Homo sapiens: one gene and its partners. The protein of the gene in region 3 interacts with the protein of the main gene of each other region in a pairwise test. Each region holds a gene or a part of one and is shown on either strand. Other genes may lie near its edges.

Region 1 (3,055 bases), on a different chromosome or scaffold from region 3:
GCATACTTTCCAAACATCCTTTTGAGCTTCTACCAGTCCACCCCATAATTACAAAGAGAAATATCATGTTGAACGGTATCTATCTAGCTGACAACAGGATTTTTGTTCAGGAACTAGAAACAAAGAGCTTTGCTGTTTTGATGACCAATATTTAAATGATAACAAAACCGGAATCTTGAGTTCCTTCCTGGTGTCCTTAGTTCCACTGTCACGTGAGCAGGCCAGTTGTAATTGTCTGCAGAAATGAGGAAGATGAGATCCCAGGAGGATACGTGTTTCCTTCAGTCCCCCAGCCAGGAAGAGGCAAATACTCATCTTGGTTCTTCTGTCTTCCTGTCCCATTTTTTTTACCTCTGTGCCAATGGTTCTCAAATTGGAGCATGAGCCAGAATTCCCCAAAGGGCTGTTAAAGCACAGATTGCTGGGGCCCATCGCCAGAGGCCCTGATTCAGTAGGTCTGGAGTGGGACCCAGTAATCTGCATTTCTAACAAGTTCCCAGGTGATGCTGATGCTGCTGGTCTTGGGATTATGCTTTGAAGACCACTGATACTTCATATCTGGCCTCCTTCATTTTCTGTGAACACTCTGAGTCTTTCTATGAACACTCTGAGACATGGAAAAGTTGGAAGAGCTATACTGGGCTACTATTTCCCTTGTGTTCAAAATAAATCCAGTTTCCTGGCAAATTCATTAAGGAATAAACCCAAAGAAGTCTTTTGTCATTATGCTAACAGAGTTGGAAGGTGTCATGACACTATCCTTCATAATTTAGAGTGAATATTCTACTGTTGAGGAAAAAGTTCAGCAAAGATGACTTGGTAGAAACAGAAGCCATGGAACAGAGCGCAGAGAGCGTGAGCATATTGACCCTGGAGTGAGCTGCTGGTCACCACCCCTTTCCAAAACAAGATGCAGCGTTAAGGCAAAGAAGGCAAAAGCTTCGGGCTTGCGTATTCCTGGGCTTCTCTAGACCGTAACAGACACCCAGATTCAGAAATCCCCTCTGCTCTATTGGGGCATCATTCTACATCCCTCATCCAAATCTGGCTGATGCAAACTGTGCAATTTTTAATGCATTTATTTTTAGCTCTTATGTGAGGAGGGCTTTGGGAGGGGTCATTTCATCAGCCAGATTTTCAACTGTCAGATATTCCCTTAAAGTTTAAAATGCAGCCAATATTCCTCCACTGTGGATGTGTTTCACCAGCAAACGTCCATACCACAAGAGCAAATACCACAAGACGTCCATACCACAAGAGCAAATACCACAAGATACCACAAGAGCAAATACCACAGAAATGTCCATACCACAAGAGCAAATACCACAGTGAGCAAATTCTGTCTCTCCGGGTGCAGCAGTGACACGTGTCACCTGTGACAGTTCATTTGTACACACTTTTGGGACTGGGGCACCAAACCTCAGAAGTGATTGGTGTGGGATTTTATGAACAGTACAGATGAATGAAGAAGTTAATTCTCTGGGGTAAGAGGCTGAAAAAGCTGATACCCAGCTCCCAAATGTTCACCAACCAGAGAGAACATGACAACAGTCAAAGCAATTTGAACGAGGTTGTGCAAAAGAACCAAAAAAATGAAAGCAGAAGCCACTTTGGAGGAGAGCTATAACCCTTGTGAGTGACTCCTCCTGAAGATGTCCCTGTCCCCTGCACTGCCTTCCCTGGCCCCCAAAAATCCATAAGAAAACACACCGCTTCTTGGTCTCTTTTGTCCACCGACTTTCTTATCTTAGAGCCTAGAGTCAGCTCCTTGAGGCCTGTCCTCCAAGGTTTGGCCACCTTGGCTCTGATGGGACTGGACTACGTTGGTAGAACACCTGGGTTTTAGAGTCAGCCAGCCGTATGTTCCAGTTCCAGTTCACAACACCACTAGCTATGACGTTTTGGAGAAGTTTCTTAACTTCTCTGTGCTTCAGTTTTCTCATCTATAAGGTGGGAGTTTGCTTGAGGGATGGATGGATGGATGGATTGGTGGGTGGATAGGAAGACAGACAGATGATAGATTATAGATATTGATGTAGACAGACACAAACACACATAAATATTTATGACTACTGGAGTATTAAAGAATTTGCTAAATGTTGAATAGGGTGCCCTGCTGAACAAGAAACACAGCAAATCTAGTTCCCTCCCTGTATAATTTTTCCAAACTTCTAGATTCTGAGCCTTTGCATGTCTTGCACTTGGAAAACAGCCCTGTGTTGGAGTGGAGTTCAGCAGCACACAAGCAGAGCTCTTCAAAGAATAGCAAAGGGCACCCCAACCTAGCAACGCAGTCCAGTAGACCTGGACTTAGCAGTATTTAATTGCAGATGTTGCACATTCATTCCAAATGTTCCTCTCATCCTTTGTTAGCTCTCAGGCTAACAAAGGTTTATCCTCTATGGACTTTTGGACTTCTGTAGGTAGACAGAAACCTCATTCATTCAGCTACCACTAACTAGACACGTGGGACATCCTAGACAGCTGCTGTGATGAAGTTCACCACTTCTTTGAAGATCAGGTTGATTACTAGTATAAATCAATGACATATATAAGAGGGAGTTTCACTTACTTGAGAGAAGAATTATGTGTAAGCCTTTAAAAGCATTCATTTACACACAACGTGCTAATTACAAATCATTATCTATTAACTAAGACCAATTTCTAGAGAACGTTTCCGTGCTGAACTTTAGTTAAATTAATAGGGAGTCACTGAGTCCACCCAAAAGTGATCAAACAGTATTTCTTTAAGAGTGTTTAATAATTCACACCAGATCTCCTCCCCAATTACTGCACATTAGCAGAGCTTTGTGCATCCCGGTATGCACTTGCTGTAGGGTTAACCTCACCCTATACCTTGGGAGGTTCTGCTCATTTCAGGGGCAGGTGCTTGAAAAGGGACCCCAGGGACTAGAACAGATACAAATGCACCAATGTTTATTGCAACATTATTTACAGCAGCTAAAAGGTAAAAATAACCCAAGCGTCCATCAATGGATGAATGGATAAATAAAATGTGGTCTATGCATACCATGGACTATTTTATTCTTATATA
Region 2 (3,500 bases), on a different chromosome or scaffold from region 3:
CCGATAGTTTTTGCCTTATTTGAAAAGTAGTATGTGTTTGTTATAAAAAGCACAAATGAGCAAAAAGGAAAAGATTTAAATCTTTATTTCCTACCATCCACAGATAATCATAGGTAAGATTTTAGTGTAATACTTCTGCATATTTTTAAATAAAAATGTGATTGTCTATATATCATGATACATTCTTTTAAAATTAGTAATATCTTGAAATAATATTTTATGTGATTAAGTGTTTTTATAAAGCATATTTGTTAATAACTGCAAAATTGTCTATTAAAGAATTTTGCCATAGTTTACTTCACTATTATGGATATAGTTCATTGCCACTTATTTTCCGTTACAAACAGTGCTATAGTAATTACCCATTCTCTGAATCTTTACACATTTTCATTTTTATATTGTTAGGATAAATTCCCAGAAGTACAATTTTTCTGAGTCAAAAGTATTTTTGTTTTTAACATTTGTAGTAGATATTGTAGGCACAAAAGAGCACATATGGTATGATTCTATTTATATGAAGTTCTATATCAGGCAAAATTTATATATGTTTAAAAATGAGACAGGGAAGAGGAAAAGTGATTATATCTGGGAAACAGGATTGACTGGGAAGGGGCACAAGTGAACTTTCTGGAGGGAATGAAAATACTCTGTATGTTGATATATGGTATGGGTTGCATCTAAATTAATCAAATTGTACCCTTAAGAGTTATGCATTTTACTAGATGTAAATTGTTGTGGCTTTTTTGAGAACTAAACAAAAAATTATTAAACTTAAGCTAACCTTAATTTTATTGGGGGACTTTTCTGTTTCAGGAAATGGGCTGAAGATGCTCATGAAGAGGGCTCTGAAGTTTAAGGATCCATTGCTGATGAAAATGATTAGAAACATTTCTCAGCATGATGGACCAACTAAAAATCTGTTTATTGTAAGTATCATTTTGGCTTTCTATTCAAATAGACTGGGAATTGAAATTGCTACATTTGGAAATACAGCTCTTACTGAGGTCTCGTCAAATATTAATTTATAATCCAAATTGCTCTTATGTTATCAACTTTGTTAGTTTAGCACCTAGAAATCTCAACCTATGTTTCAATGTTGTTTTTGTTTTGTGACCCTTACCCCTAATCCCTCCACCCCACTACAGTCTTCTTGCCTTAAACCAGTTCACCATAGGCTTCTTTAGCAATTTAGCTCAAGATTATTAAAACAAGAAAATCACATTTGATATTTACTTTTTCTTTCAATGAGTTAAATTGTTAGATTCCTGTGGGTTATTAGATTAAATAAAAAATAATTTAAATTTATATTAAAATTATGTTTTATTCAGGATTATGTTGGGGACCTTGCAGCCCAGATCTCTAATGATGAAGAAGAGGAGTTTGTGATTGAATGTTTGGGAACTCTTGCAAACTTGACCATTCCAGACTTAGACTGGGAATTGGTTCTTAAAGAATATAAGTTGGTTCCATACCTCAAGGATAAACTAAAACCAGGTTTGTGCTAAGTATTTCACTTTTGTATAATCACTAAGTTATTTCTTTCTGTTATGGATAAGGCTGCTAGAGCAGTATTGTGTGACTATTATTATGTTAGGAAAAGCCATTTCTTCTCACAGCTCTCTTCTCCCAGAAAGGTAGTCACTGGATCACCTCTTACATATATGTTCTCTTTTTCCTAAAAGTGTGTTTTCTTATGTTAGTTTCTATTTCCTATTCTACCTTTCTTGTGGTCTTTTGGTATTTTTTTATTCTGTCTCTTTAAAATTACCAAATACCATCCCTCTGCATATACATAAACACGCACAAAGGTCTTTGAGGCATTCAAATGAGTCTTTTATTTTCTGTGTCTATGTTGTCATTCAGTTGTACTCTCAAAGGCTCATTTCCACTTTTCTACTGCCCCCTGCCCCCACTATCACAAACTGTCATCAGCAAACATGGAAATTTGGAAAAAGGACAAATTTATAGCATATCAAGGATTCATATGACTTGATTTAATAGCTTTCAGTATCCTTTCTGTGTATTTACATTTTGATACTCTAAATGAATTTGGATCAGGACATTTCAGTGAAAACTTTCTATGGTTTGACTTCACTAGGTGCTGCAGAAGATGATCTTGTTTTAGAAGTGGTTATAATGATTGGAACTGTATCCATGGATGACTCTTGTGCTGCATTGCTAGCCAAATCTGGCATAATCCCTGCACTCATTGAATTGCTAAATGGTAAATAACCTTAATTTATTTTTATGTTAATGTCTAAACAGCTTATTGATTTAAATATTTAAATATAAAATGCAGAGTCTGTAATCTGTTTTTCTCATTACATTAATTGTTTCATAGCAACTTATATAATCAAGAAAAATGAATTAAATATACTGCTAACTGGGATTGGATAGAGTAATATCAAAGATCTTTAGCTTTCAAAGTTAAGAATGTTGCTGTAAAGCAGTTCAGGACCAATTTTACAGAAGTACTCTCCTCACCAACCTTGAACAACCAATATAGTAGTCACAACTTAATCAAGGGGAATACATTCCAAGACCCCCAGCAGATGCCTGAAACTACAGATACTATCAAACCCTATATATACTTTTTTTTTCTAAACATACCAATGATAAAGTTTAATTTATAAATTAGGCACAGTAAGAGATTAACAACCATAATTAATAATAAAACAGAAAAATTATAACAGTATGCTTAGCATCACTACTCTTATACTTTGGAGCCATTATTAAATGAAATAAGGGTTACTTGAATACAAGCATTGCAATACTATGCTAGTGGACCTGATAACTGAGATGGCTACTAAGGGACTAATGGGCAGGTGGCATGTACATCCTGGATACACTGGACAAAGGGATGATTCATGTCTTGGATGGGATGGAGTGGAACAGTGGGAAATTACATCACACTATTCAGAATTGTGCATAATTTAAAACTTATGAATTATTTCTAGGATTTTTCATTTAATATTTTTGACCATGGTTGACTGCAGTTAACTAAAACCATGGAAAGAAAAACCACAGATAAGGGAGGACCACTGTATTATATCACTTCTTTTTGTTTGTTTGTTTGTTTTTGTTTTGACTTTTTGAGACATAGTTTTGCTCTTGTTGCCCAGGCTGGAGTGCAATGGCATGATCTCGGCTCACCACAACCTCCGCCTCCCGGGTTCAAGCGATTCTCCTGCCTCAGCCTCCTGAGTAGCTGGGATTACAGGCATGCGCCACCACACCCAGCTAATTTTGTATTTTTAGTAGAAATGGGGTTTCTCCATGTTGGTCAGGCTGGTCTTGAACTCCCGACCTCAGGTGATCCGCCCACCTCGGCCTCCCAAAGTGCTGAGATTACAGGCGTGAGCCACTGTGCCCGGCTATATCACTTCTTTCTGTTGAGATTTGTGTTGGTTTGAATTGGATCTCTTCTCTTGTGCAAATCTTATTTTTTAAAACTTGATTTCTAAGTTGGAAGGTCCATTTGGAAGCTGATTCTAAACATC
Region 3 (3,500 bases):
TCTAAAGACTTGACTTTATTCAAAAGAGAGGGTAAGACCAAGACTTGGGTACAGGCAGTTTGAGAGGTGATTCCAGGAAGCAGCAGAATACAGGGGAGAGAGAGACCAGAAGCAGCAGAAGTAAGACAGGGCATGTTATTGATCTTTTTACACCTGTGGGCAACTGGATTTGTTCTGTTAAGGACCAGGAACCATGTAGGGACTCCTATACCCCATTGGATAAGGGTTGCATGAACTCCCTTGCATTTCCATGTTGAGTCTTGAGTGCTTGTTGAGACAGTGGCAGCAAACAGGGAACCCTCTGATACTTTTCAAACATAGCTGCCCCGAAATCAGAGGTAGCGTAATGTGGGGCACACACACACAAAAAGCATGTTTCAGTGACCTTTAAAGTGTCAGTATGACCTTTTGGATTTAAATAATTTGAAATATTTTAATCCATGATAATGAGTGATGATGTTACTGATGCTCAAATATTCCTATTTTTGCTAATGGTGGAACTTCTTAAAGTTGGATCCTGAATTCTTTAGGCAAATTAAAAAGCCCTATGACTTTATAGCTCCTTTACATGACAAGATGTTTCAGGTCAAGCATTGCACAAAATATCAACCAAGCAAAAGATCGTTCTTTTCTCTTGCTTCTGACTCCCTTGTATGGCAGAGGGACAAGAAGATAGGGGCTGTGGAAGCTGATGCTGGTGTTCACTACCTAAGAATTGCCAGGAACACATCTTGGCTTTAAGGAAGAACAATTTCATATGGAAACAGTGAAGTTACTTGTTCAAAGATACATAGTACAGTTATTCTAAACTTTTTTTTGGCTTCCTGAACATGCCTTGATCTAATTGGAAAATGCTTAGTAGTGACCCCAGTGGTTTTCCAGATAACTTTTCTGAATATCTTCACTCATCTCCCCTACCACTGTCCTAGGACAGTTCTCTTCATTCAGTAAGGCCTAGAGTTGGCCCTGGTGGTATTTGACATAAGGTAAGTGTATTGATTTATTTAGGAAGCCTAGAGTATTAGTTAGATGTCAGTGGAAAAGGAGCATATCATCTTCCTATCTCAGTCTTTTTGTATAAAGTACAGTCAACTTAAACATTAAGACCAGAGAAGAAAGGCTTAAAAAAATAGGAACATGTAGCCTTGAGCAGAAGAAATTTGGGGAAATGCTACTCATTTTGTTTGATCATGGTTTGGGAACTTTTATTGTATGTGATCCACAGATCTCTTAGCTTGTGCTATTCAGGCCACTTTCTCTGTGACTGTTAATGTATCTGGTTTTCATGACAGTTTAAGGAACCTCCAAAGCCTGGGACAATTGCCTCAATTCATTGTACCCTAGGGATGGCTCTGATATATAATTATTCTAACTGGAATACTGGTTAGGTGCCAATGAGTAACACAGTGGGAAATAACATAGGCTTTTATAATTAGATAAGAGTTGAATAGATACAGTTAAATCTTGGCTTCACAACTTGGCTGAGTAATCTTGGGAAAGATACTTAGCCTCTCTTAGCATGTGATTCTGTGTAAATTGAGGATGATGCTAATACCTCCTTTTGGCAGCTTCTGCTTTTATCTCACTTTCCCCTTATATCTGTTTTCAGCAATTTTAAATTCCCCAGCTCTCAGATACAACTCCAACAGCAAAAGTAGATTTCTGAATGTATTGTGGAGAGATTTATACAAGAATTGTATAACCCTTAGACTTTTTTTTTGTTCTGTGTCAGAATTTTTCCTTCCCGGGTAGCAACTTCCCTCTCTAATTCTCTTCATCCCTTTAAATTCTCTAAAATATACATATATATTATATATATATTTTTATATTTGTTTCCTCGAGTAATTTGGCTTTGCCCATCTGGCAAAACTTCACTTAGACTGCTCTTCTGGTATTCCTGAAGCATGCACCTTGGCATACGGGGAGGTTTGAGGTTGGGGCTGGAAGGAGGAGCAAGAAGCATCTTGTCAAATGCCTCACAGCTTATATTTGAATTTTTAATGTAAACAGGTCTACAACAGGATTCTAGACTGTTTAACTTACTGATCATATATATATATATATATATATATATATATATATATATATAATTTTTTTTTTTTTTTGGGAGACAGAGTCTCACTCTGTTGCCCAGGCTGGAGTGCAGTGGCATAGTCTCGGCTCACTGCAAGCTCTGCCTCCCAGGTTCACGCCATTCTCCTGCCTCAGCCTCCCGAGTAGCTGGGACTACAGGCGCCCGCCACCACGCCTGGCTAATTTTTTGTATTTTTAGTAGAGACGGGATTTCACTGTGCTAGCCAGGATGGTCTTGATCTCCTGACCTCATGATCCGCCTGCCTTGGCCTCCCAAAGTGCTGCGATTACAGGCGTGAGCCACTGTGCCCAGCCTATATATATATTTTTAAAAAACCAGCTTTTAGGCTGGGCATGGTGGCTGATGCCTGTAATCCCAGCACTTTGGGAGGCCAGAGCAGGTGGATCACCTGAGGTCGGGAGTTCAAGACTAGCCTGGAGAAACCCTGCCTCTACTAAAAATACAAAATTAGCCAGGCATGGTGGCGCATGCCTGTAATCTCAGCTACTCAGGAGGCTGAGGCAGGAGAATCACTTGAACCTGGGAGGCAGAGGTTGTGGTGAGCCGAGATTGCGCCATTGCACTCCAGCCTAGGCAACAAGAGCAAAACTCTGTCTTAAAAAACAAACAAACAAAAAAAAGCTTTTATTAAAGATACTAATTAAAATCGGACTTCATTATGTTTTAAGTATCTCAAGCTATAAATCCTGTGACTACATATTTTATCTCGAATGGTTGACTGGTTTACTGCTTGTTATTTTATATGCATTAAAGCATTTATTTACTAGTGTATCTGTTAGATAAGTCCTGGTAAAGAGGACAGAAAGTAGTATGCTTCTCCCAACAGTTTATACTATACTGGGGAGTAAACATGTAAAGAAATGAAGCCATGGAATACATATTAAAGTTGTATTCATTTGTAATTTCAGTATCCATATATTCCTGCACATATTACAAAGCCTAAGGAACATAAGAAGTTGTTTCTGGTTCAGCTTCAAGAAAAAGGTAAGTTATTTTGTTTTCAAAGGTAGCCATCTAAAAATTCTGTAGAATAATTTCAAGGATACCTCTATTTGTGTTTTCTCAAAGTTCCTTGAACTTTTGGGTTTGTTGTAAAACTAAAGATGTATACCATGCTTTTAGTTTCAAATCTGTGGCTAGGAAATCTACCTTGAAAGACACAACCAAAATGTATTAATGAGAATTATCTTTTTTCTTACACTTTTTATTAAATGTAAAATTGGTAATTTAAAAATGAAATGGAAGCAGTGATTATATAATAACTTATAATAATGAATTCTGTTTTATTTTAGCCTTGTTTGCAGTCCCTAAAAATTACAAGCTGGTAGCTGCACCATTGTTTGAATTGTATGACAATGCACCAGGATATGGACCCATCATTTCTAGTCTCCCTCAGCTGTTGAGC
Region 4 (3,500 bases), on a different chromosome or scaffold from region 3:
ATGTGTATTTCCTACAAGGACATAGTCACAAGACAACCATCAAAATCAGGAAATTAACGCACTGATGCATTACTATAGGTTGAGCATCCCAAATCTGAAATCCTCCGGAATCTCAAACTTTCTGAGTACCAACATGAAATTTCAGATTAGGGGATTTGGGATGCCCAGTTGTAAATATATAATGCAAGTATTTCAAAATTCAAAAAAATACAAAATTTGAAACACTTCTGGTCTCAAGCATTTTGAATAAGGGATACTCAACCTGTATGATCTAACCCACAGATCACTTTCAGCTTTCTCCCATTGTCTCAATAATGTCTTACTATAGAGTCCTGGATTACATTATCTTGTCCTGTCTCTTTAGTCTTCCTTAGTCTAGAGCATTTCCTGTTTGTCTTTAACTTTAATGATTTTCACACTTTAGAAGACTACAGGCCAGATATTTTGTAGAATGTTCCTCACCTGTGCCTATTTCCTCATGATAGAAGTTCTACATTGTAGTCCTGGTGCTCTGTTCTAATGACATCTTTTTAGGTGGAACATTATTCTCATTTGTTCCATTACTGGGGATGTTCACTTCAATCACTATTAAGGTGGTGTTTGTTAGGCCTTTCCATTGTTAGGTTACTAATTTTCCCTTCCTAATAGGCAGTTTTGGGGGAGGGACTTTGAAACTATGTAAATACAGTATTCCAGTGATCATCAAACTTGTAACTTGTTCATCTTTTAAAAAATGTATAGCAGTGTGGACTAGTGGATTCTGACTCAGTAGGTTATAATTTGTAACTATTATTTGGATTCTCAGATTGTCCCATATTTGAACATGCAGAACTCCTTCAGGCTGTCTTCTGTGTCCTTTTGCCATGTCTCCATTATTCTTTGTGCATTTCCTAGCATTCTGGCACAAGGTGTATTCCAAACTAATTTTATATGTGAAATCAGCCGTTGCTCCAATGTGATTTCTTTTTAGTGGAGAATGGTATTTAGAATGCAGGGTCTTCACTTTGCTTATGTTTATTGCATTTGGGATATTCCTGCTCCCAGACCCTCTAAGTGGAAGGAACTAGGGATGTACAGGAGTGTGTGTGTGTGTGTATGTATAAAACCATGGGTTCACACAGATGTCTCCAATTGCAGTTCAACACCACTGGATTCATTCTAGTTTTTTCCCTTTCTACATTTGTTATTCCCTTCTCCAATAGTGAGAAACCTGGCTTCCATTATCTTCAATGTATTGTCTATTTGGTCATCCCCCTTCCTAACCAATCTTTGCTGCCCCCAACAGGTGCCCTTCTTGCCCAACTTGGGCTCCACATTTTATGCCAGGCCACCCTCCCATCCTCTAGTGTGGGTGACTTCGTTCTGTCCAGGCTCTGACACACCAGCCACACCATGCTGCCCCTCTCCAGGAATGCCCTCCTTGCTCTACTTGGGCTTAGACACCTCATCTTAGACCTGGCATATCTTAAATTTTGACAGATACTCTCAAATTGCCTTTGAGAAGGGTTATGCCAATTTATGTTTTCATCTACAGTTCACCTTTTCCCTCATAAGCTTGCTACACTAGATAGTAAACATGTTAGTCATTACTGACCTCATGAATGAAAAATAAAATTGTATCATTTTGATTTGGATTGATTTTTTTAAGTAAGATTAACCATTATGTTTTTCTCTGAGCTGTTACCATCTTAATCCTCAATTTCATTATCTGTAATATATGGCTAATAATATTTATTAGAGTCATGAAAGAATTACATTATTGTAATGGTTGGCCTGGGCTACCATAACAAAATAGCATAGACTGGGTGGCTTAAACATCAGAGATTTATTTTCTCACCCATTCTGGAGGCTGTGGAGTCCAAGATTAAAGTGTAGGTCGATACAGTTCTTGGTGAGGCCACTCTTCCTGCCTTGCACAAGGCTGCCTTTGTGCTGTGTTCTCTTGTGGCAGAATGAAAGAGTGCATGCTCTCTGGTGTCTCTTAAGGCACTAATCCCATCATGGGAGCCCTACCCGCAAGACCTCATTCAATCCTGATTACCTCCCGAATACCATCATATTGAGGATGAGGGCTTCAACATAAGAATTTTTGGGGGGGTTTTGGGGGGCCAGGGTACAAAGATTTAGTCCAGAACAATGATACATATGTAAACAGAGTCTGGCACAAAGTTGGTATTCAGTAAACATTAGTCTCCTTTTTTCTCTCCCCTCTAATGTACTTAGGAGTTTGGATTTTGGATGATGTTTAATATTTATTTAGAATTTGAGCTGTGTCTGACATGTATTTAGTAATTTTGAATATATTCAAAATTAAGCTTGTTAAATTTGTGAATTATTTGATAATTGATTTATTTTGCAGTATTAGAAACTTGTAAATTTAAAAAAATTGCCATTAAATGTTTTTCCACAAGTACTTAATAATGTGGTTATTCATAGAAAGACACATAAAATAGTAACATACATTATTTAGGGGTATATACAGATTGGAATGAAAAACCCCCAAATCAAGATGCTGGTGCTTGGGAAGGGATAGTGAGAGGTGTGAACCAGGATATTAAACACTGAAAAACTCTTTGAAAAACTATTTGGTTAGCTATTTCATTGGTTCTATGGAATGAGCAAGCAGTAAGCAATTGTGGTTTAAGTAGTGTTTAATGTTACTACTTGTTTGTTAAACATTACTCATTGAAAGATGTGATGAACTGCGAAAACATTGAGAGGAAAATAAGTTTCAAAAACTGTATACAGTTGACCCTTTAACAACATGGTTTGAAGTGTGAGGGTCCATTTATACACAGATTTTTTTCAACTAAATGGGAAAAGGAAGTACGATATTCACAGGATATGGAACCCACCTGTAGAGAGGGCTGACTACCACTTGGCTAACCATGGGACCTGAATATACATAGATTTGGGTATACTTGGGCTGTCCTGGAACAAGTACCCCGAGTATACCGAGGGATGAGTGTACTCTTCTTCATAAGTATTTAAAATTTACCAAATATCCTTAATCCTTTGTCTGGTTGTGTACTCTGGTGTACATGTAATGTTTGGTGGAAATTGTATTGTTTATATTCTAGGACATGTTTCTCTACTCACCTCTCTCATCCCACAAATTGCCTTTCCAGTGATTAGCATGTATGTAATAAAGGATTTATTCATTTGACATGTATTTGTTGAGTGTTTCCTATAAATCTGGTACTGAAAAGTACAGAGAGAATGGTATTAGCTGCCATTTATCAGTACTAAGTGCTTTACATACACAGTGTCATTGAGTCTTCATAGCTCTTTGAGGTATAAGTTTTATACCTAGGGATCAGAAAAATTTAATTTACCCAAGGTCACAGTTAATTAGAGGCTGTCTTGAAGCAAATTTGACTTCTATAGATATTTGTCTTTGAACTTAGTAAGTAGTAGTTAAGGGAGAGAAGAATCAGTGGTTTTAACACCAAGCTAGAGTGCTTTAGTATTTTGGAAGTGTTTATCCTGGGGTGGGACTC

What was found.
Region 1: the proteins of NUDT21 (region 3) and CTNND2 interact in a two-hybrid assay, tested with the Homo sapiens proteins (one large-scale study listed by BioGRID and IntAct).
Region 2: the proteins of NUDT21 (region 3) and KIFAP3 interact in a two-hybrid assay, tested with the Homo sapiens proteins (one large-scale study listed by BioGRID and IntAct).
Region 4: the proteins of NUDT21 (region 3) and SEM1 interact in a two-hybrid assay, tested with the Homo sapiens proteins (one large-scale study listed by BioGRID and IntAct).

The regions. Positions count from the first base shown.
Region 1 is NC_000005.10:10,974,392-10,977,446, reverse strand, and holds part of CTNND2 (catenin delta-2), read left to right. Parts: intron 1-3,055. UniProt on the Homo sapiens protein: Has a critical role in neuronal development, particularly in the formation and/or maintenance of dendritic spines and synapses. Involved in the regulation of Wnt signaling.
Region 2 is NC_000001.11:169,980,696-169,984,195, reverse strand, and holds part of KIFAP3 (kinesin-associated protein 3), read left to right. Parts: intron 1-813; coding exon 814-926; intron 927-1,328; coding exon 1,329-1,494; intron 1,495-2,098; coding exon 2,099-2,224; intron 2,225-3,500. UniProt on the Homo sapiens protein: Involved in tethering the chromosomes to the spindle pole and in chromosome movement. Binds to the tail domain of the KIF3A/KIF3B heterodimer to form a heterotrimeric KIF3 complex and may regulate the membrane binding of this complex.
Region 3 is NC_000016.10:56,434,333-56,437,832, reverse strand, and holds part of NUDT21 (cleavage and polyadenylation specificity factor subunit 5), read left to right. Parts: intron 1-3,003; coding exon 3,004-3,079; intron 3,080-3,387; coding exon 3,388-3,500. UniProt on the Homo sapiens protein: Component of the cleavage factor Im (CFIm) complex that functions as an activator of the pre-mRNA 3'-end cleavage and polyadenylation processing required for the maturation of pre-mRNA into functional mRNAs.
Region 4 is NC_000007.14:96,699,847-96,703,346, reverse strand, and holds part of SEM1 (26S proteasome complex subunit SEM1), read left to right. Parts: intron 1-3,500. UniProt on the Homo sapiens protein: Component of the 26S proteasome, a multiprotein complex involved in the ATP-dependent degradation of ubiquitinated proteins.